Regions from separate parts of the Homo sapiens genome. Here regions 1, 2 and 4 are each linked to region 3. The links come from fine-mapping of genetic effects on gene expression. A gene starts in region 3. Each other region holds a variant in brackets. All regions are shown on one strand. Distances are between the middles of the regions.

Region 1 (5,144 bases), 23 kb before region 3:
TCACGCAACGATCTCACGTGACCACGCGCTTCCCACACACGCTCACGCAACGATCTCACGTGACCACGCGCTTCCCACACACGCTCACGCAAAGATCTCACGTGACCACGCGCTTCCCACACACACTCATCCCCCAACAGCAGTGGGAGGTCCAGGGGCATGTGGCAGCCCCAGGGGTCCTGGGTGTTCTACTTAACCTTTCTGTGCCTCAGTTTCTCCCCTCTGAAATGGGGCTGATACCACAGTCTCAGTTTCACTGGGGTGATGAGCTGGGGTGCCTGGATTATAGGAAGTGCAGTACATGTGTTTGTTAAATCACTAAAACCATCAGCACCTTTGCCTGACAGGTGAGGAAACCGAGGCACAAGGAGCTGATTGGCCCGTGATGGCCTCAGAGCTCATCAGCCAACCCCCACCAGGCTACGCTGCCTCTTCTGGGAGCCTCCGGTCTCCCCAGAACATCTATCCACTGGGGTTAGATTTGTCCAATGCCCCCACCACAATCACAGGGGAGACTGCTTGTCAGCACAGGGCCGGCCACCCTGGCACCAGTTCAGTCCCTAGGGAGGGTCTTTCCCTGGCATCCCAGGGACTGGGCTGTCATTTAAGTTTAGGCCACTGACACGAGCTCATTCATCCCCCCACTCCCTCCCTCAAGTTTCCTGAGTGTGCAAGCAAACCCCCCCACTGCCCTGGACACACTCATTCCCGCCAGGGCGATCAGGGGTCCCCATAACTCATCAGGGCAGCCCCCACCCCAGCAATCCCCACACCTGGAAGTCGCTCATTAAGACCTCATTAGCCCGTGCTCCACCTCCCACCCCATGGCCGTGGTGAGTTTAGTCTGCAGCAACGACCCGACCACACCAGCTGGGCAACGAGAGCTGCGAGAATGGCAGCACTGTCTACTCTCCACTTTCCCCAGAAAGGCCCGGCCAAAGCATGCACAGGCAGCCACGCCAGGGGCTCCTGCAGCACCTCAGAGAGACCAGTAATGGGGCGGATTAGCAGGGGCCAAGGGTCTGGGGTGAGGCCACAGTGCATGGAGTGCATGGAGGTTGGGGCACGTGTGACCAGCCAGGGTCATAAAACACACATGGTCAGAGCAGGGCACTCAGCTGCCGAGGAGGGGGGTGGTGGGGAGGCACGGGCAGGCCTTGGGTGCAGTGAAGCAGGCGGGCAGGGGAGGGTGGCAGCGGGGTGTGGGGGCAGGAGGAGGGGGGTGGTGGGGAGTGGGGGCTGGGTCGGGGCTGGGCCCTGGCTGCCCTGGCTGCCCCCCGACACCTTCCCCAGCTGGTCGGTGCCCAAGGGTGGGTTCGTGGGGCAACTGCACCCGCTCCCTTCCACTCTGCTGTGGCCTGACCAAGCGGGCTGTTTTCTTGCTTTGTTTGTTGTTTTTTTCTTAAGGAAGAAGAGAATGAATTTAGAAGGCTGTAAACCCCATCTGAGCCTTACACATAGATCTCCTTGAATTGGATTTTCACCAAGGCCGTGATGGATGTGGAGTCTCGGCTTTCTGACAACGTCTTCCAGAGCAGGCTTTCTCTAGAGGGTGGACTGCCTGTGTTCTCCTGGGAGAGAATGCATTTGCTTCCGATGCCCAGGGCACGAAAGAGGTGGACGAAACAACGGAAGTGGAGGGGGTGGATTCTCTACCTGGGAAACCCAGCATGGCACACTCATATAGAATTAAGATCTTATAATAAGTGTGCAGATGCGCCCGTTCTAAGGAAATAAAGGGTTCTGCCCTCCTAAGAATTCTGCCCTTGCAAGGGGTGTGAAACCTGCAGAGCTGCTTCCCGGCTTCTTCCTCCAGGAAGCCCTCCGTCCTCCTCCAAGCTGTAGACACAGGGCTGGTAAACAGGTAGCCAGGCGCCCCCACAGCCTCGGTGTGGATCCATGGCTGAGCAAGTCCTCCCTGGCCACTCCCATCTCTGATGACAGAACATACCATGATGAGAGCCGCTGAATTAGCAAGACAGTGTGGGGAAGGTACCCTCCGGGGACTGGGGGGCTTCTGGACTCCGAGAGCCCCTGCGTCCATTCCTGTTTATCGCGGCCACTTCCCATCTGGGCAGGGCAATCTCTGTACCTGGGGAGTGCAGCCGCCCATGGAGACGGCTCAGAATAATGAGCTGAGTGTCTCCGTGTAGCTCCCGCCCCAGTGCGGAGCTCCTGGTACAGGATGGCAGGTGGTGTCTAAATAGCTATTCATAAGGACATTATCTCCAAGCACCGGGTGGAAACGAGCCTTCCTCCCCCCAGCTGAGAAGTGACAGGCACTTCCCTGTTTACTGAGGACAACAGTCAACCGCAGAGCGGCGTGGAGCTCGCAGTTCTTCTCATGTCACAGTTGTGACTGAGTGTCATGTCCTAAAGCTTCAGGATGAATGCAACTCCGCTCCACCAAGGGCCGGGGACAGAGTGAGAAGACACTGGCGCCAGGAGCGGGGAAGAGGGGAGGGGCCGGCAGCTGCCTAAAGAGCAGGCCCTCCTGCTGTTTCTGAGCCCCC[G/A]AGGGCCCTCTGACCCCAGACACCTTCCCTGCCAGCTGAACACCATTCCAGAGTCAGATCTTGGTTTTGTTTTCTTTCTTTTAAAAATATTTTATTATAAGGTGAAAAGAAAAGGAGAGTACACTAAGTCTTAGCCATGGTTGGCCCTTTAGTCTGAATTAGTATATCAGCTATTTTACCAAGGGCAGGTTTGGACGGTGCAGAGACAGGAAGAGAGTATCAGAGTGCCCAGCACCACAGAGAAGGGGTGGCTGGCCAGGGCGCCCATTGCAGGCAGATGAAAAGGGTGCCCCCGAACAGGCACGATGGGTAGGGCACCCCCAAACAGGAGCAATGGGAAGGGCACCCCCAAACAGGAGCAATGGGAAAGGCACCCCCAAACAGGAGCAATGGGAAAGGGCACCCCCAAACAGGCACAATGGGAACGGCACCCCCAAACAGGCACGATGGGAAGGGCACCCCCAAACAGGCACAATGGGAAGGGCACCCCCAAACAGGAGCAATGGGAAAGGGCACCCCCAAACAGGCACGATGGGAAGGGCACCCCCAAACAGGAGCAATGGGAAAGGGCACCCCCAAACAGGCACGATGGGTGGGGCACCCCCAAACAGGAGCGATGGAAAGGGCGCCCCCAAACAGGAGCGATGGAAAGGGCACCCCCAAACAGGAGCGGGGGCCTCTGAAGGCAAGTGGCAGCAGCTTCCTAATCCTGGCCCCACGTTGTTCCAAAGGTCCATGAAGTTGACCAAACGCCACACAGCCACGGGAGACACAGTGGCCACCCTGGGGCGTCTACACTGAAGGCCAAGGGCATGTGGAGGAAGAGCCATCTGAGCCGAGGCCCGGGGAGGAGCCAGCAGGCCAAGGAGGCGGAAGAAACCACGCAGTGGCGTCCAGGGCAGGGCAGGTGCGTCATCCGGGCGGGATGCAGAGACACGTCCTTCCACCAACCATCTGAGGAGCACTTGGCACCCACACAATGAGCCCGGCAAGGGCCACGCCAGGAGGCAGCGCACGGGGCAGAGCCTCTGAGCCAGAGAGGGGGAGGTCCCTTGGGAGGCCCCTGCCATCCCCCGCTCTGGGTGGGCCTCTCCAGCCAGACTCTGCGCCCCAAGGGCAGGGCTGGGCCTAAGCCACACCTCGGGGTGCACGGGCTGTGGGGGGCCGCTCCTGGACACGGAAGGACGACACCGGCTTCCCTGTACCTCTGCTGGGGCCGCGGGTCCCATGTCGTCAGCGTGGCCACTAGGCTGCCAGCCTAGCACAGCCTCCAGGGCAGCCATGGCCCAACCTGCCTTCCGAGCCTCAGGGGTATCCCTGAGCACATGGGAGTGCAGGAAAAGGTACCCCAGGGGATCCCCACTCACCTCCCGGCCATGTCCTACCAGGCACTAGTGCCGCGCTGCAGCCACCCCCGGGCCTTACCCACCCCCACCAGCTTCATTGCCTTCCAGGTCCCAGCACCACCAGTTTCATTGCTTTCCAGGTCCCAGCACCACCAGCTTCATTGCTTTCCAGGTCCCAGCACCACCAACTTCATTGCCTTCCAGGCTCTCAGCAGCATAAGAGACCTACACACACACACACGTGCACACATACATAGAAGGGGCTGACTCACACGCCACCCCATATGCAAGCCGCAGAAGCTGGGCGTCCACTGAGCAGCAGAGATAGCCCATCCCAGAGGGCAAGGAGGATCCCTGGGGTCCCTACGAGAACACCTCGCCCAGGTCCTGCCCGCGGCCCCCCACGAGGCCTCTTTGGGAGGGAGGCTGCCCCCTACACCACTCAGTGCTAGGACTTACCCATGCACCCCCCAGCCCTGTGCAACCCTGCCCGTGCACCAATGACCCCACTCACCCCTGACCCTGCTCACCCCAACCCCGCTCACCTGTAGCCCCACCAGGTTCTTAAGCAAAAGCTCAGTCTGTGTGCACACAGCAAACACAATTCTGCCTATATTTTCTCGGGGTTTGGGGCTCACATTGGACACTGGAGGCTCTCTTGAGTGAGTAAGAGCAGCAGCTCAGGCTTTTGAAGGCAAAATGGAATGGACGCAGGGCCCAGGAGACACCAACTGGGTGAGAGCAGGGCTCCAGAGCCAGCAGATGGCTGGGGTGGGGGATGCATGCCCCCTGCCACCCACTCCAGCAAACCCGGTCCCCTGACTTGGGTTGTGTCCAGCAATGGCTTTCTGGGCTTGAAGGCAGAGCTGCCAGGAGGAAGGAGTCCCTCTGCAATGTCAGAAGCACCAAACACAGGGGAGACCTAACTTTCAGGGCCTGGGGGAAGCTGGGGTGGCCAGGCTGGTGGGAAGGAGACATTAACATTTTCCGAGAAGCCCTTTAATTCTTCCCAATAAACCGAACGAGTACAAGCCTCAGCATGGAAGCACAGCTTTCTAGAAGCTGGAAAATCAGGCTCATCACAAAAGCTCGAGCACAGTTAATTTCCTCTGACATTTCCTCCTGTGGTTAGTCTTGGAGCCAGCAGGTGGCCGGAGGCGCCCCATTCTTTCCCATAAATGGACGGTCTCTAAGGAATCAAGTCAGGCCCTCATCTCCAAACCCTCATCCCATTTTTCCCTGGCCTGCACGTGGCCAGCTGTGCCCCGCGCCTCGTAGGCCTGTC
Region 2 (5,144 bases), 32 kb before region 3:
CAAGATGGTCTCTGACTCACAGATGACGATTCCAAGGGTCTGAGCGGCCCTGTGTGTTCCCCGATGTCTCACAGTGACAAATGGGCAGAGGCAGGGGCTGTGGACTGACAGCATCCCCCAGTTCGTAGGTCGAAGCCCCAGCACCCAGTGTGATGGTGTTAAGAGCTGGGACCTCAGGGAGGTGACTAGGGTGAGATGAGGGGGTGAGGGTGGCCCCCCGATGGGATTCGTAGCCCTGTAACAGAGGAAGAGACCAAGCTCCTCTCTCCTCTATGTGCTGACACGACTAGAAGACAGCCGTCTGCAGACCAAGGAAAGGACCCTCCCTGGGAGCCCAGCCTTGCTCGTGGGCTTCGGGACTCCAGAATGTGGGTAAGGCACGTCCGTTGTTTGAGCCGCCAAGCTATGGTTCTGTGATGGCCGCCGAGCTGACGGAGGCTGTAGAGTTTCGACTCCGGTCTGGGGGCTCCAAGGACTGTCCCGCTCCATGCCCTGCCCCCACCCTGGATGCCAGGAAGGAAGAGAAACGCCCCGAGCTGCAGAGAGGACAGAGAGAGGGAAGGAAGAGGACCAGCATGTTCGCACAGGGCACACAGTGGAGGCTCCCGCCCAGGATGGAGGGCAGGTATTCCAGGGAGCGGCCCCCAAAGCGACTGGGTGTATGCTGGGCTGCTCATCGGCATTGCAAGGCATCCATCTCCCTGCCGGCAGTGAGACTTCGTGGTGCGTGATGGATGAGGCCACCAAGCCCAGATTCCCTTCCCAGGTCCAGGAGGGCCCCTCCAGTGGGCAGCCCGGGCTGCCGGCCACCCACGCGGGCTCTGCCACCCCTCAGGCAGCTCCCAAGAGCTGCGGGGTCTCTGCAGCTCTTGAGCTCTGCTGCCCTCGCCTCGATCTAAGCTCCCCTTGCCTTCCCCATTGACAATCCGCCTGGCTCTGACTCAGGCCCAGGGAGGAGACAGGAGCAGATGGCTGACAGGGACAGTTGGGACACAGGGGCAGAGAGGAAGCAGTCTGGTTGCAGCCTGGTCCCGGCCCCAGCCCCCCAGGCCTGATGACCCAGCCTCTGTGTGACTCAGTGCAGGGAGCGTGTGGCTCCTGGCCCTGCCACAGAGGCCAGAAGGCATCTGCAGATGCCCACACAGGCCCCCCGCTTCTCCGGGATCACGGGCGCACCCAGCCTGGTGGGCACATGGGCCCTGGATACGCCCTCGGCTGCATGCTGGCCTGGGTCCTGGATGCCTCCCACAGCCAGCCCCTGTCCTCCCACGTCCTGGGAGGAGCCCCTGGGATTAGCCAGGAAGGTGCCGGCCACAGGGCCCGGCTGCCTGTGGGGAGGAGAAAGACATGCATCCTGGGAGAGGGAGAGGCAGGCAGGAGTCCTCCAAGCCCACTTGGTTTTCCCTCGAGAGATTTTCCACGGCTGCTGGGATGAGGGCTGCGGGGGCCTCCTGTGTGCTGTGCACTAAATGTTCTTCAAGAGTCAGACGCCAGGAGCAGCTGGAAACGTCAAATTTTCTGGTTGTTGGACCAGTTCCTCTTATTCTTCTGTGCATTTAAAAATTATCACTGAATTCGGCCGGCTCGCCAGCGCACGCCTATAATCCCAGCACTTTGGGAGGCTGAGGCAAGCAGATCGCTTGAGCCCAGGAGCTTGAGACCAAACTGGGCAACGTAGCGAAACCCTGTCTCTGTAAAAAAAAAATACAAAACATTAGCCGGGCATGGTGGCGTGCGCCTGTAGTCCCAGCTACTTGGGAGGCTGAGGTGGGAGGATCGCCTAAGCCTGGGAGGTCAAGGCTGTCGTGAGCCATGAATGTGCCACTGCACTCTGGCCTGGGTGGCAGAGTGAGACTCTTTCTCAAAATAATAATAAGAAGAATTCCTACAACCCAACAATGAAAGGATGATCCAATTTAAAAATGGGCAAAGGATTTGACTTTTATTTCATCACAAAAGACATAGAAAAGGCCAACGAGCCCAGGAGAAGAT[G/C]CTCAAGATTTTCCCACTCAGGGAAGTGCAAACCAAAGCCACAGCGCTGACCGTATCAAAAACAAAAGCAACAAACAAACAAAACCAGAAAACGACACGTCGTGGAGAACTTGGAATCCTCACACACTATGGGTGGGAATGTAAAACGGTAAAATGGCACAGCCGCTTTGGAAAACAGTTTTGCGGTTCATCAAAAAGTTAACCATGGAATTAGCAGATGACCCAGCAATTCCACACCTAGTATCTACCCAAGAGAAATGAAGACATATGTCCACATAAAGACATGCATACAAATGTTCACGGCAATGTTGCTCATAACAGTCAAAAAGTGCACCAGCCCGAATGTCAACTGGCTGATGAGTAGGTAAATCAGCGTGGGCTGTCCACACAGTGGGTCTTGCTTGGCCGTCAATCAGAAAGAATGAAGCCCTGCGCTATGGTGTGCAGGTGCGCATGGACCTTGAAACATGCTCAGTGAAAGAAGCCAGACACAAAAGGCCACGTGTTTTGTGATTCTTTTGTAAGAAATGTCCAGAATGGACAAATCTGTAGAGACAGAAAATGGACTAGTGGTGCCAGGGGCTGGGGGAAGGTGAGGCGGGAGCGACTGTCATGGGTGCAGGGCGTTTTGGTGCAGTGATGAAATGTTCTGGAGTTAGATAACGGTGATGGTTGCACAACTCTGTGAACATGCTTAAAAAACCGAATTGTACACTTTAAAGGGTGAATATTTGGGGATGTGACTTATATCTCAGTAAAGCTATTATTAAATACATCCATCCATGCATTCATCGCTGACTGCCTGCCCTGTGCTTTCACTCCTGTAGACCATGGAGATCTGTTGGGGGATCTGTGTCTGTTCCATAACTTTCTGGTGTCTGTTCCATAACTGCAACTCTGCCAGGAGAGCATGTGTGGGCCCCATGTTCAGATGTACCACAATCTCCCTCCCTGCTCACTTCCTTAGGGTGGCAGGAGGCAGAAAGGGGGCTTGAGACCTACACTCCAACCCCACTGAGCAGAGGATGGCAGGAGGCAGGAAGGGGGCGTAGAGACCTGCACTCCAACCCCACTGAGGCAGATATTTTCCAACAACGGCCACAATATGTCCCATTTCCTCTGCTGGAGGTGGGGTCTGTGCACCCTCTTTTTGAGCCTGGCAGGCGATTGGGAGTGCCTCGTGGCAGAGGTGACACAGCTTCTACTGGCAGTGCCTTCTGGGAACGCTCAACTTGGGAACCCAGCGCCACGCTGTGAGCAAGCCCAGGTCATGGGAGCCCCCGCTCTGGCACCAGCTGTCAGCCAGGCCGAGTCCGCCGTGATGGGGGTGCCGTCTTGGGTGCTCCAGTCCCCAGCTGGGCTCTCTGTCCCCACTTCCCCTTAGGGGAGGGAATCAGCCCTTCCCACCTAGCCACACCTGCAGATTTGGGAAGGAAAGAAGTAAGGATGCTGTTTTCAGCCTGAGGGCCTCTGCTGTCAGTAAAGGCTTGAAAGAAAGTGAGGCAAAGGTTGATGGAAGCTGGAGGAAGGGAAAACCTCAGAAGACAGGAACAGTAGGTTATGCAGCGCTGTGGCCTGCAGGGACACAGAGGCAGAAAACGTGCAGATGCCCTGGGCGAGCGGCGACTCCAGGCAGAAACGCCAGCAGGCTTTATTGCAGCTGTGCATAAGAAGGAGAAGAGAGGGTTTTGTTTAACTTCAGTTTTCAAGCAAAATTTAGATAAAATTAAAGAAGTCAGGACTTAACAGAATTTAAAAGAAAGCTGTTGACAATGCCAAGTGCTGATGAGGACTCTGGTGGCTGGAACACTCACCCGTCGCCGGTAGACGTGGAGAGCAATACGGCCGCTCGGGAACCCAGCTCGACAGTTTACTATAAAGTTAGACCTGAACCTTCTTATAACACAGAAATTCCACTCCTAGAGAAAGGCAAAATTATGTTCACACAAAATCTTGTACACAAATGTTTCTTACAGCGCTATTCTTTTTTTTTTTTTTTTTGAGACCGGGTGTTGCTCTGTCACCCAGGCTAGAGTGCAGTGGTGCAATCTCAGCTCACTGCAGCCTCTTACTCCCGGGTTCAAGCGAATTTTCACAATCATCAACAAAATTGGAAACCACCCAAATGTCCTCTAGGAAGTGAAAGGATAAATAGTCGTACAGCCACACGATAGACTCAGCCGTGAGAGGGGGGCACTGTTAATATGCAACAGGGACGAACCTGGGAGGCACCACGCTGAGCAAAAGAACCAGACCCCAGAGGTTAGTAGTGTGTGGTTTCACTTACACAACAGCTTCCAAAAGGCAAAGCTGCAGGGATGGAGAGGAGACAAGCCGTTGCCAGGGGCTGGGGTGGAGAGGAAACTGTGGCTTTTAAAAGTAGCATGGGGCTGGGCAAGGTGGCTCGCGCCTATAATGCCAGCACTTTGGGAGGCCGAGGCAGGCAGATCACTTGAGGTCAGGAGTTCGAGACCAGCCTGGCCAACATGATGAAACCCCATCTCTACTGAAAATACAAAAATTAGCATGCCTGTAATCCCAGCTACTGCAGAGGCTGAGGCAGGAGAATCGCTTGAAGCTGGGAGGCAAAGGCTGCAGCAAGCCGAAATCACACCACTGCACTCCAGCCTGGGCGACAGAGCAAGACTCTGTCTCAGACAAACAAACAACAAAAAAGTAGCATGGCAGAGCTGCTCTGGGTCACGAAGCTATCTGTGTCCTGATGGTGGACGTGGTTCTGGGTCATGAAGCTATCTGTGTCCTGACGGTGGACGTGGTTCCACAAATCCATACATGTGTCAAAACTCATCAAATTCCTTTTTTTTTTTTCTGATACACATTCTCCCTCAGCCACCCAGCTTGGAGTGCAGTGGTACAATCATGGCTGACTGCAGCCTTGACCTCCTGGTCTCAAGTGATCCTCCCACCTCAGCCTCCCAGGTAGCTGGAAGTACAGGCACATAACCACCACGCCCAGCTAATTTTTGTATTTTTTGTAGATAGGGTGTCTTGCTATGTTGCCCAGGCTCGTTTCGAACTCCTGAGTTCAAGCGATCCTCCTGCATTGGCCTCCCAAAGTGCTGGGATTACAGATGTGAGCCACCATGCCTGGTTTATGGAATCACTTTTTACAAGCCAGTTTTACTGCACAA
Region 3 (5,144 bases):
TCTGTACTTGGCCGGGCGCAGTGGCTCACGCCAGCAATCCCAGCACTTTGGGAGGCCAAGGCGGGTGGATCACGAAGTCAGGAGATGGAGACCATCCTGGCTAACATGGTGAAATCCTGTCTCTACTAAAAATACAAAAAAATTAGCGCCTGTAGTCCCAGCTATTCGGGAGGCTGAGGCAGGAAAATGGCGAGAACCTGGGAGGCGGAGCTTGCAGTGAGCCAAGATCGCGCCACTGCCCTCGAGCCTGGGTGACAGAGCGAGACTCCATCTCAACAAATAAAAAAAATAAAAAAATAAAAAAACCTGTGTACTTAACTGGTGAATCGTGTCTTCCAGAGGACAAATCTGGCCTACTCCAGCCTATTCTAGTTGGATGGAACACCTCACCTCACACCCGACAGCCCATTCGACCTCGTTCATTCCCCGTGGAGACCCATCAGTAACAGCCCTGCCCTTCATTCAGCCGCTATTCCCATTTTACAGACGACTCAATCGAGGCACAGAGACGCTAAGCACACTCGCCCAAATGTGAAGTAGCAGGGCCAACATTCAATCCTATCTACTGGCTTCCAGCAAAGGGATCACTGGCGTTTCCTTTGATGCCAAGATTTCTAAGCTCTGATGTTTGTGAGCTGCAGCCCCCTGACAAGAGTATCAGGCTCCGGTTGAACAGAGAAGTCCAAAGCAGGGCGAGAACGGACGAATAATCACAGAGTCCCGCTGCCAGCCACCGGCTCAGAAGCCTTGAATTCTCCTAGCTGGGCGGGCCCGGGAGGGGGTTCCTCAGCCTCCCGCTTCCCTCAACACCCTGCGACCCCCGCCCCAGCCTGCCCAGGTTTCCTGCTCCCAGCACAGCAGGTGCAGCCAGCCATGTGCACAAAGGCCAGGCTGGTTCCCTGGGCTGCACTCGAGCAGCTCCTCCCAGCCCTGCACACATGGGGCAGCAGCTCTACCCAACCTCTCCCAGGGGTTCTGGGGAGGAGGGAGCAGGGGAGGGGGCGGGGAGGGCCCAGAGAAGGGACAGTAGTGCCCTGGGGGCCCCTGGGCAACCCAGACATGGAGGGGGGGGCAAGCTTGTGCCTGGCCACCTATGCCAGTGCCACCAGGTGCTGGGGGGGACACGGAAAGGACAGGAATCTTGCCCTCACCTGGCTCCCGAGCCAGGGGCCGGGGCACCCTGTGAGGACACTCAGAGGGAGGGAGTGTGCAAAGCCTGCAGGGCCTGGGAGGATGCGTGCTGGGGCTGCCTCTCCCAAATCCTGCTGGGGCGCAGGCTCTCAGGGTGGCTTCTGATGACAAATCCAGGCAGTAATAAGGGGCCCAGGGCATCACATCCCATAGCGTCATGAGACCAGCCCAGGGTGCCAGATGCAGGGCCCTGAGTGGGGAGGGTGCTGCTCTGGGCACCTGCTTTCTGCCCTCCCTCATTCACCCCTCCCCAGACTTTGATGAAACCATCTGTGGCTCCCGGCCTCTGCAGGACCCAGCCCCTCAGCTCCTCAGCCCCTGCAGGTGTCCCTCGGTACTGCCTCACGCCATCCTGCCCCAGGTGATAACTATGCCCTGAGCCCCCACCATTTCCACTGGGCACATCCCAGAAATACGCATTCACAGACCAGGCACGCCCATGACTGCGGCCAGATTTTAAAAGGAATCACCAGAAATGTAATCTCCAGTGGTCCTAGAGCCCCCTGGGCACCCAGCTTCTGGCACCCTGTGGACACCCAGGAGTGGGGGTCGGCCCAACCAGCTGCGCAGCCGCCCAGCCCTGCCAGCGGGGAGCTTCCTCCCTCCCTGCCCTCCGGATACACCCTCACCCCAACTGAGCGAGCCCAGGGTTGGGGGAGGTGCATAGTTCCCTTCCTAGCCGGTGCGAGAAATTGCGGAGAACAGGGAAGAGGGTGGCAGGAAGGGTCTGGTGCACGATACCCGCCGCGCCCGCTCGGAATCCTGGTTCCCTGGAGCGCTCACCCCAGCCCGCCCTGCCCCGGGGAGCGCGAGGGGGCGACCCGCCAGGCTGCACCCGGGCGGGGCGGGGATGGCGGCGGGGGCTGCCTCCCTCCTCCGCCGCCACCCCCCACTGCTGGGCGCGCCGCGCGGCCGCCGGCTCCGTGGAGACGCGCAGAGCCGGGAGGGCGCGGGCGCGGCGGGAGGTGTGCGGGGCTGGGGTGCGCGGAGAGCGCGAGGGAGGAGATTCTGAGCGAGGGAGGGGAGCGCGCCCGGGCAGCAGTGCGTGCGCTCCTCCCGGCGCCACAAGCTCGCCCCGCGCAGCCCGAGCCGGGCTGGGCGCTGTCCTCGGGGGCCTGGGGAACCGCGCGGTTTGGAGATCGGAGGCACCTGGAACCCGTGGCAAGCGCCGAGCCGGGAGACAGCCCGAGGAACCACGGGTTCTGGAGCTAGGAGCCGGAAGCTGGGAGTCCGGAGGAGAGCGGAGCCCGGAGCCCGGAGCCCGGGGCGGCGCGTCTGGGTCTGGCGCTTCCCGACTGGACGGCGCGCCCGCTGGTCTTCGCCACGCGCCCTCCCCTGGGCTCCCGTTCATCGGTCCCCGCCTGAGACGCGCCCACTCCTGCCCGGACTTCCAGCCCCGGAGGCGCCGGACAGAGCCGCGGACTCCAGCGCCCACCATGCGCCTCAACAGCTCCGCGCCGGGAACCCCGGGCACGCCGGCCGCCGACCCCTTCCAGCGGGCGCAGGCCGGACTGGAGGAGGCGCTGCTGGCCCCGGGCTTCGGCAACGCTTCGGGCAACGCGTCGGAGCGCGTCCTGGCGGCACCCAGCAGCGAGCTGGACGTGAACACCGACATCTACTCCAAGGTGCTGGTGACCGCCGTGTACCTGGCGCTCTTCGTGGTGGGCACGGTGGGCAACACGGTGACGGCGTTCACGCTGGCGCGGAAGAAGTCGCTGCAGAGCCTGCAGAGCACGGTGCATTACCACCTGGGCAGCCTGGCGCTGTCCGACCTGCTCACCCTGCTGCTGGCCATGCCCGTGGAGCTGTACAACTTCATCTGGGTGCACCACCCCTGGGCCTTCGGCGACGCCGGCTGCCGCGGCTACTACTTCCTGCGCGACGCCTGCACCTACGCCACGGCCCTCAACGTGGCCAGCCTGAGTGTGGAGCGCTACCTGGCCATCTGCCACCCCTTCAAGGCCAAGACCCTCATGTCCCGAAGCCGCACCAAGAAGTTCATCAGCGCCATCTGGCTCGCCTCGGCCCTGCTGGCGGTGCCTATGCTGTTCACCATGGGCGAGCAGAACCGCAGCGCCGACGGCCAGCACGCCGGCGGCCTGGTGTGCACCCCCACCATCCACACTGCCACCGTCAAGGTCGTCATACAGGTGAGCCTCAGTAACCAGCCCCGGGGCTCCCCTCTCCTTCACCCCAAAAGCAGTGCCAGTGGTGTGCCTTCTGGGTAGGGAGTGGGAGAGATGTCACAGAGACAGTCTACTCCTGCGAGGCTGGGAAGGCGGTTGGGGCAGCTTGGGGGCAGCTCCAGAGTTGCCAGGCTCAGCCCCTATCTTCTTCCCTCCTGTTGAGGGGATGGAGCCCCTGCCTGTGACCTCTCTGGTGTTGGTGGCTGGGCCTCGGACATCTCTGAATTCCTTAAGCCTAATGGAAACATGTGCGCTGGCACCTGCGTCTCCAAAGGAAGAGTAACACTTTCATCAGCTTCTCAAAAGACTGTGCCACCAACAGGTGATGTTCCTTCCTCTGCAGAGAAGCCCCCAGACTGGCTCTGCCGGTGCCTCCCAGCTGCCTGCCCTGACCCAAACTTGGGAGTCAGAACAGAACCTGATGCCGTGTTGGGCCAGTTCCTAGTTTAGCCTCAGCTTTCCCATCTGTGTGATGGGGTAGTGATAGCATTGACCTCAGAAGGTAGAGCATTGGAGAGAGGACGCGTGGGAAGTGTTTGCATGGCCCCTGACACATAGAAGGGCTCACAGGCACTATTATTGCGGGATGGTGGGGACGATGTTTCTGCGGGGAAGGTTGTGAGGATCTGCGTGTGGCGGCGGTGTTGTGGTGAGGTGTGTAAAACTGGAGCCGAGTGACTAAGGGCCCTCCAAGGGTCTGAGCAAAGCGCCGTGGGAATGCGGGTGGGAAGCCCCCTTGGGAATCAGTTTGGCTGAGGTTCGTGGCACGGGGGGTTCCAGTGCTGGAGGGGAGGGCTGATCAAACCAAAGCCCCGAGCAGGAGGCTGGTGTCCAGGGAGGAAGTCAGGGCCGGTCGGGAACTTTGAAAGGCATCTTGGAAATGAGCAGCCTTAGAAGTGTGGGGTTTCCTCCATTTCTGGTGGGCTAAGGAAGCCAGAGGGTGAAGGATCCGGGCAGAGTCGCCTACCTCTGCCCAGCTAGAGGGGCCAGGGTGGCTGGCTGTCCCCCCAACTCCCCACACACCAGCATCGCCAGCCTCCCAGCTAAGCTTCTGTAGTTGCCTGGGCACCCCGCGTATGCCAGTATGCCCGGTGGGGGTGAGGGCAGCAGTGCCGGGCAGGGGGTCACCTGTCTGTCACTCCCTGGGCCCTAACTGACCCTCCACTGGCCACCACCCAGGTGGGCTGGGGGGTGGAGGAGGGTAGAACTGAGCTCCCAGTCTCCCTGGCTGCACATAGAACTGGTGGCTACAGGTGTCCCATCTCGGGGAGGCCCCTCCCACAGACACTGGTGGCAGGCAGTGAGTCAGGGCTGCTTTGCTTCTGCGGCGAGAGTCCCTCCCCTCACCAGAGGCAGAAGTAGGCACGGCCTGTGGGGTAAACACAGTGAGAAATGACCTCTCCCTCCCTTTGAGGCTTTATCTGCTCTCCCCAAGCTCCTGTCTTTGATTGGCATTGGCCAGGGGGAACCTCTCCCCAGTCCGCGTGGAGGGGCCCCAGGGGCGACAGCCACTCAGTCCTTCAGAAGGTGGGCAGTGGAGGGGTCAGCGCTGTCACTGCCCACCCAGGAGATGCCCCCACTCAGACCCCGGATCCCCCCACTCAGACCCCCGATCCCCCCGCTCAGATCCCCGATCCCCCCGCTCAGAACCCCGATCCCCCTGCTCCCCTGGCAAAAGGCCAGGAGCTCACCAGCCTCCTGCAGTCCTCAAAAACAAACAGCCGAAAAGCACAGGGGCGTGAGGACAGCTCGGCTCCGCCCCCCGGA
Region 4 (5,144 bases), 20 kb after region 3:
AGGCACCAGCAGGACCTCGCTTAGCACGGCATCCCCACTGCCTGCCCACCGGTCCCCAGGAGAATCAGCCATCCCAGGCATAGCAGGCTTTAGGATGCTGAGATTGCCTGGGCATGCTGGCTGGTGCCTGTGGCCCCTGCCTGGGAGGCTGAGGCAGGAGAATCGCTTGAGCCTGGGAGGTCAAGGCCGCAATGAGTCGTGATGGCACTACTGCACTCCAGCCTGGACGGCAGAGCAGGAACCTGTCTCAAAAAAAAAAAAAAATGGTGGGAATGGCTTCACAACTGTGGAGTGCTTTTCTCATTTTACTAGGTGAGGAGGAACAGGTCCATGCTCCCCGAGGCACAGGCACCTAAGACAAGCCTGGCCCCGGCCGCGTTAGTGGAGAAGGCTACAGATGGCCAAGATGCTCACAGGACGGGCACTTCCTGCCCAGGATTCCAATGTGGCCCCATCCACACTGGGATGGTTTTGAGAACCAGGTGACGGCAGGTGCACCTGTCCTCTGAGCCCCATCTGGAAACTGCTTTGTGGACAACCGTGGCCTTGGATGAAAGGGGTCCTTGCCAGAGCTTGTGGGGTGCACAGCTGGAGGAGAAGGGTTTCTGCATCACCTGTTTTCATTGGTTCCAAGGCTCAAGGCCCTCCTGGAGTCCCCGAGAGACCGCCTCATCCGCCTGGGAAGCGGGTTGCCTGCATAAGCCAGGGCAGGACACACCAGCCCCACACAGGAGCCCGTGAGGGCTCCGCACTGCCCCCACCCTGAGCCGGGCTCCTGCAGGCTCCCCGGCCCCACAGACCTGTCACCACGTAGATGCGCTCTCTCCGGCTCACAGGGCCTGAGGACAGGGTTTCCTCTCCACCCTCAGGGAGCAGCAAGGGCTGGGTGGAAGTGGGGGGTCCCAGCAAGTCCCAGCCCAGAGTGCCAGGAACAGGTGAGCTGGAGTGAGGAGTGAACACTGAAAACACACAGGCTGTCACCGCCTGGGGCCACGGGTTCTGCCCCAGAGATAGCGCCAGCTGGACTGCCGGCGGGTCTGGAGCCACCTCTGCACCTTGCCCGGCCGCCGGGCTCAGCACCGGTCTAAGGAGAGTCCGCTGTGGTACGGCCGCTGGGCAGTGGCTCTGAGCCCTCCGCCTCCAGCATCGAGGTGACTGAGGGGATAGCACAGAGAGGGTGGCTGGACGTGGATTTCCTGGAGGGGAGGCGGGAGTGCCTGAGCCACAAACAGGTTTCATCACAAAACCTGTGTCTGGCGTGGTGGCAGGGGGACCTGTGGGCTGAAAGCAGCAGCCCCTGGATCAGCAAATGGCCCCGGCCTCAGAACTGCACAGCAGCGGCCACCAGGGCCACAGCCGAGGGCCAGAGTGGGAGAAGAGCAAGGGCAGGCGGGTATGGGTGCCATGGCAAGGGTGGGGCCAAGTGGGCAAAGGGACAGACCTGTGTTCCCGGCGCTCCCGGCGTGGGCCGACCCAGCACCTGGGGCCTGCACTCACTCACCTCCTGTCACAGCAGATGGTGCTGGGGACCCAGCGAGGCCTCAGGGCTGCCCCAGGCCCACGGTGCCTGCAGGGCCAAGGAAGGGCCAGTCTAGGCCCGGCCCCATCATCTGGCTCTTTACTCCCCCTCCTGGGGCTCCTTATGACCACAAGGACGAGCCTTGTGGATGAGGGGTGTGGACTGGACAGCAGGGAGGGCTTCCTGGAGGAGGGGCTGAGTCGGCTTTGAAGTCAGGGGAAGGGAGTGGTGCACAGGTCCCCCCGAGTCTCCCAGCATCCGAGCCTTGATCAACAGGAGGGAGATGGGTACCTTGGGGTCGGTGCTCTCTCTTTCCCTCCCCGGCTACTCAGCTGGACCCCAGGGTCACCTCCTCCATGAAGCCCTGTTTCCCCATCCCTGCGGTCAGTGTGTGCGGCAGCCCCACCCTGAGGAGGGGGTGGAGCTGGGTGGGTGCAGACACTACTGGTGATGAACAGACAGACGTCCCCGCAGGAGGGGACGGAGCTTCCGTTTCCAGCACCAGCTTCATTCCCGGGGATTTTTACTGTTCAGTTTCTAAAAATGGCAGAAGTTCATTTCTTAACATCCCCTTGGCAAGGCTGCTTCCATTTCGGTGAAAGTGGAGGCCGTTTGTGGTTTTCTCTGCCTGCCGGAGGCTGGGCCACGGTGTCTGCGGAAGACGCTGTGTGCACAGCTGGGCTTTCTTTGTGTGTGCCAGCATTGCTCAGGAAGGGGAAGGAAAAGGAAACTGAGTCGCGAAGGGCAGGCCAACACCCGGAGGCCAAGCAGGTTTCACGGCAGCCACTTCTGCCAAACGCCAGAGGCACGTCCACCAGGTCACCTGGACAGCCCAGCCAGGTGCCCACCCAGTTTCTGTCACCTGCACCCAGAACCGGCCCTCAGTGGAGTCCTCGCTCCAGACAGAGGGGCTTCAGGACACTGAGAAGGGTCTTGGGGTAGATTCTTTTCTGAAGGAAGCCGGAGATGCTGAGTTGGAAAGGGA[C/T]CCTAAGACTGTCCCCTGACCCCACCCAGCCCTTCCGGCGACACTCAGAAGAAGCTGCTGGCAAGAGCCAAGAGATGGATGTCCAGTCCTCGGTCTGTGCACACCTGAGGGGCTCGTGCCCTGCAGGGAGCTAAACCTGAGACTGAAGCTGTATCCAGACACACTTACTCACGGCATGTCCCAAATGCCTGACACCCACAGATCCACCCAAGTCTGCTTCTCTGCTGTGCCTGCAGCCCCCAGGAGTGGCTATCTGCATGGTCAAAGCCACTCCTCCCAACTTGGGGGCTCCGGGAGGAGGGCAGGGTGGGGAGAGAGTAGCTCCCTGGGAGCCCCAGGGTGGCCTGCTCAACACAGGCTCTGTGGCTTCCAGCCCACTGGGGAGAGATGAGACAAAGGGAGAATGGAAAGATCTGGAATTTCTTTCGTGCATGGAGCGGGGGCAGTCCTCAGAAGCACAGCCTGAGACAGGGATTGTGGTGCAGGTGATGGATGGAGGGTGGGCCCTCAGGGGAGGAGAGGGAAACACAGGTGACACAGGTGTAGCTCAGAGCCTTATAGCCTCAGGAATCTCCCCCAGGGGTGCTTCCAGAATGCAGACCCCAAGGCTCACCCCAGACCAACTGGATCAGAATCTCCAGGGCAGAGACCTAGAACTTGGGGCTAGGGGTTTCTAATTTTTTTTTTTTTTTTTTTTTTGAGATGGAGTCTCGCTCTGTCACCCAGGCTGGAGTGCAGTGGCACGATCTCAGCTCTCCACCTCCCAGATTCAAGTGATTCTCCTGCCTCAGCCTTCTGAGTAGCTGGGATTACAGGAGCCCGCCACCTCCCTCAGCTAATGTTTTATATTTTTGGTAGAGACAGGGTTTCACCATGTTGTCCAGGCTGGTCTCAAACTCCTGACCTCAAGTGATCTGCCTGCCTCGGCCTCCCAAAGTGCTGGGATGACAGGCCTGAGCCACCATGCCTGGCCATCTAAATTGTTATTAATAGACTTTATTTTTTAGAACAGTTGTAGAGAAGCGTTGAGCCCACAGGACAGCGGCTCCATGGTGTCTCCTGGCCCTCACCTGTTAATAACAGGTGTCTCCCTGTTATTAACATTTTGCATTAGTGTGGTACATTGTTACAATTAATGAGCCAATATTGATACATTATTAAGGAAAGTCTGCAGTTTATATTAGGGTTCATCAGTCTTGTACCTTCTGTGGGTTTGGACAAATGTGTAATGTCCTATATCTACCATCCCAGGATCCTGCAGAAGAGTTTCATTGCCCGAAAAAATCCTTGGAGCTCCACCTGTTTATTCCTCCCTCCCCACAACCCCTGGCACCCACTGATCCTCTTACTGTCTTTCCAGTTTGTCTTACCCAGAACGTCACACAGCTGGGATTATACCGTATGCAGCCTTTTCAGACCAGCTTCTTTCCCTTCGCAGTATGTAGTTGAGGTTTCTCCCTGTCTTTTCATGGCTTGATAGCTTGTTCTTTTTACGGCTGAATAATATTCCATTATCTGGATGTCCCCCAGCTTGTTTATTCACTCAGCTATTGATGGACATCTTGGTTTTTGGCATTTATGAAGAAGGCTGCTATAAACATACATGTGCAGGTTTCTGTGTGGCTTTCACCCCTTTGGGAGTAGAAATGCCAAGGAGGGCGATCGTTGGAACACGTGGTAAGGATACGTTGAGCTTTGTAGGAAGTTGCCAAAGTGCCTTCCAGCACGGCTGCGCCATTTTGAATTCCCAGCAGCCACGGGTGAGGGCGGTTCTGTTGCTCCGCAGCCTTGCCAGCGTTTGGTGTCGTCAGGATCTTGGTTTTGGTTTTTGTAGCCATTCTCATTTGATCTCATTGTTTTAATCGACATTTCTCTAATGACATATGATGTGGAGCATTTTTCTTGTGCTTATTTTTCCATTGCTACGTCTTCTTTGATGAGGTGTCTATTCAGATGTTTTGCCCATTTCTTCATGTTTGTTTCCTTATTGTTGAGTTGTAAAAGTTCTTTATATATTTTGGATAACACTCCTTTATCAAGTATTTTGCAAATATTTTTTCCTAGGCTGTATCTTGTCTTCTCATTCGTTTAACAGTGTCATTTTTAGAGCGTTTTTGTTTTGTTTTGTTTTTGTTTTTTCTTTTTTGTTTTTGAGACGGAGTTTCGCTCTTGTTGCCCAGGCTGGAGTGTAATGGCACAATCTCGGCTCACCACAACCTCCGCCTCCCGGGTTCAAGTGATTCTCCTGCCTCAGCCTCCCGAGTAGCTGGGATTACAGGCGTGCACCACCATGCCCAGCTAATTTTGTATTTTTAGTAGAGATGGGGTTTCTCCATGTTGGTCAGGCTGGTCTTGAACTCCTGACCTCAGGTGATCCACCCGCCTTGGCCTCCAAAAGTGCTGGGATTACAAGTGTGAGCCACCACGCCCAGCCGTGTAATTTCTTAATTTTAATGAAGTCCAGCTTATTCATTTTTTTTGTGGATTATGCTTTTGATGTTGCATCTAAAAACTCATTGCCAAACCCAAGATACCTAGATTTTATACCCAAGATACCTAGATTTTATTACCTAGAAATTTTATTATCTTGTATTTTATATTAAATAAAATGTGTTATTATCTATAAATTGTATTATCTTG

Alleles and levels. Alleles are on the strand shown, and positions count from the first base shown. SD is a standard deviation of normalised expression in the study named. Not every link is listed here.
In carriers of allele G in region 1, the expression in spleen of the gene that starts at base 2,256 in region 3 tends to be higher than with A alone (moderate effect, 0.42 SD a copy in GTEx).

Evidence for each region. PIP is the estimated chance that this variant, and not a neighbour inherited with it, causes the effect.
Region 1: its variant is the best candidate, but not a certain one, in a credible set for the expression of NTSR1 in spleen (GTEx, PIP 0.77).
Region 2: its variant is the best candidate, but not a certain one, in a credible set for the expression of NTSR1 in monocytes (TOPMed, PIP 0.76).
Region 4: its variant is the best candidate, but not a certain one, in a credible set for the expression of NTSR1 in whole blood (INTERVAL, PIP 0.67).

What each region holds. Positions count from the first base shown.
Region 1 is chr20:62,684,034-62,689,177 of GRCh38, forward strand. It overlaps a transcript of SLCO4A1 not described here. Among named protein-coding and RNA genes, the nearest start is that of SLCO4A1-AS1, 20 kb to the left of the region's middle. RefSeq lists enhancers at 1-5, 6-548. The variant G/A (reference allele first, on the strand shown) is at 2,514.
Region 2 is chr20:62,674,557-62,679,700 of GRCh38, forward strand. It overlaps a transcript of SLCO4A1 not described here. Among named protein-coding and RNA genes, the nearest start is that of SLCO4A1-AS1, 11 kb to the left of the region's middle. The variant G/C (reference allele first, on the strand shown) is at 1,993.
Region 3 is chr20:62,706,581-62,711,724 of GRCh38, forward strand. It overlaps NTSR1 (neurotensin receptor 1), which reads left to right and starts at 2,256. Exons shown (of 4, transcript NM_002531.3): 1 at 2,256-3,341. The coding sequence starts at 2,628. RefSeq lists enhancers at 1,220-1,733, 1,734-2,246, 2,456-3,002, 3,003-3,547.
Region 4 is chr20:62,726,446-62,731,589 of GRCh38, forward strand. The region is part of intron 1 of NTSR1 (neurotensin receptor 1); the gene reads left to right. NTSR1-AS1 (NTSR1 antisense RNA 1) reads right to left here. Exons shown (of 2, transcript NR_199009.1): 2 at 3,485-5,144. Among named protein-coding and RNA genes, the nearest start is that of NTSR1-AS1, 6.3 kb to the right of the region's middle. The variant C/T (reference allele first, on the strand shown) is at 2,505.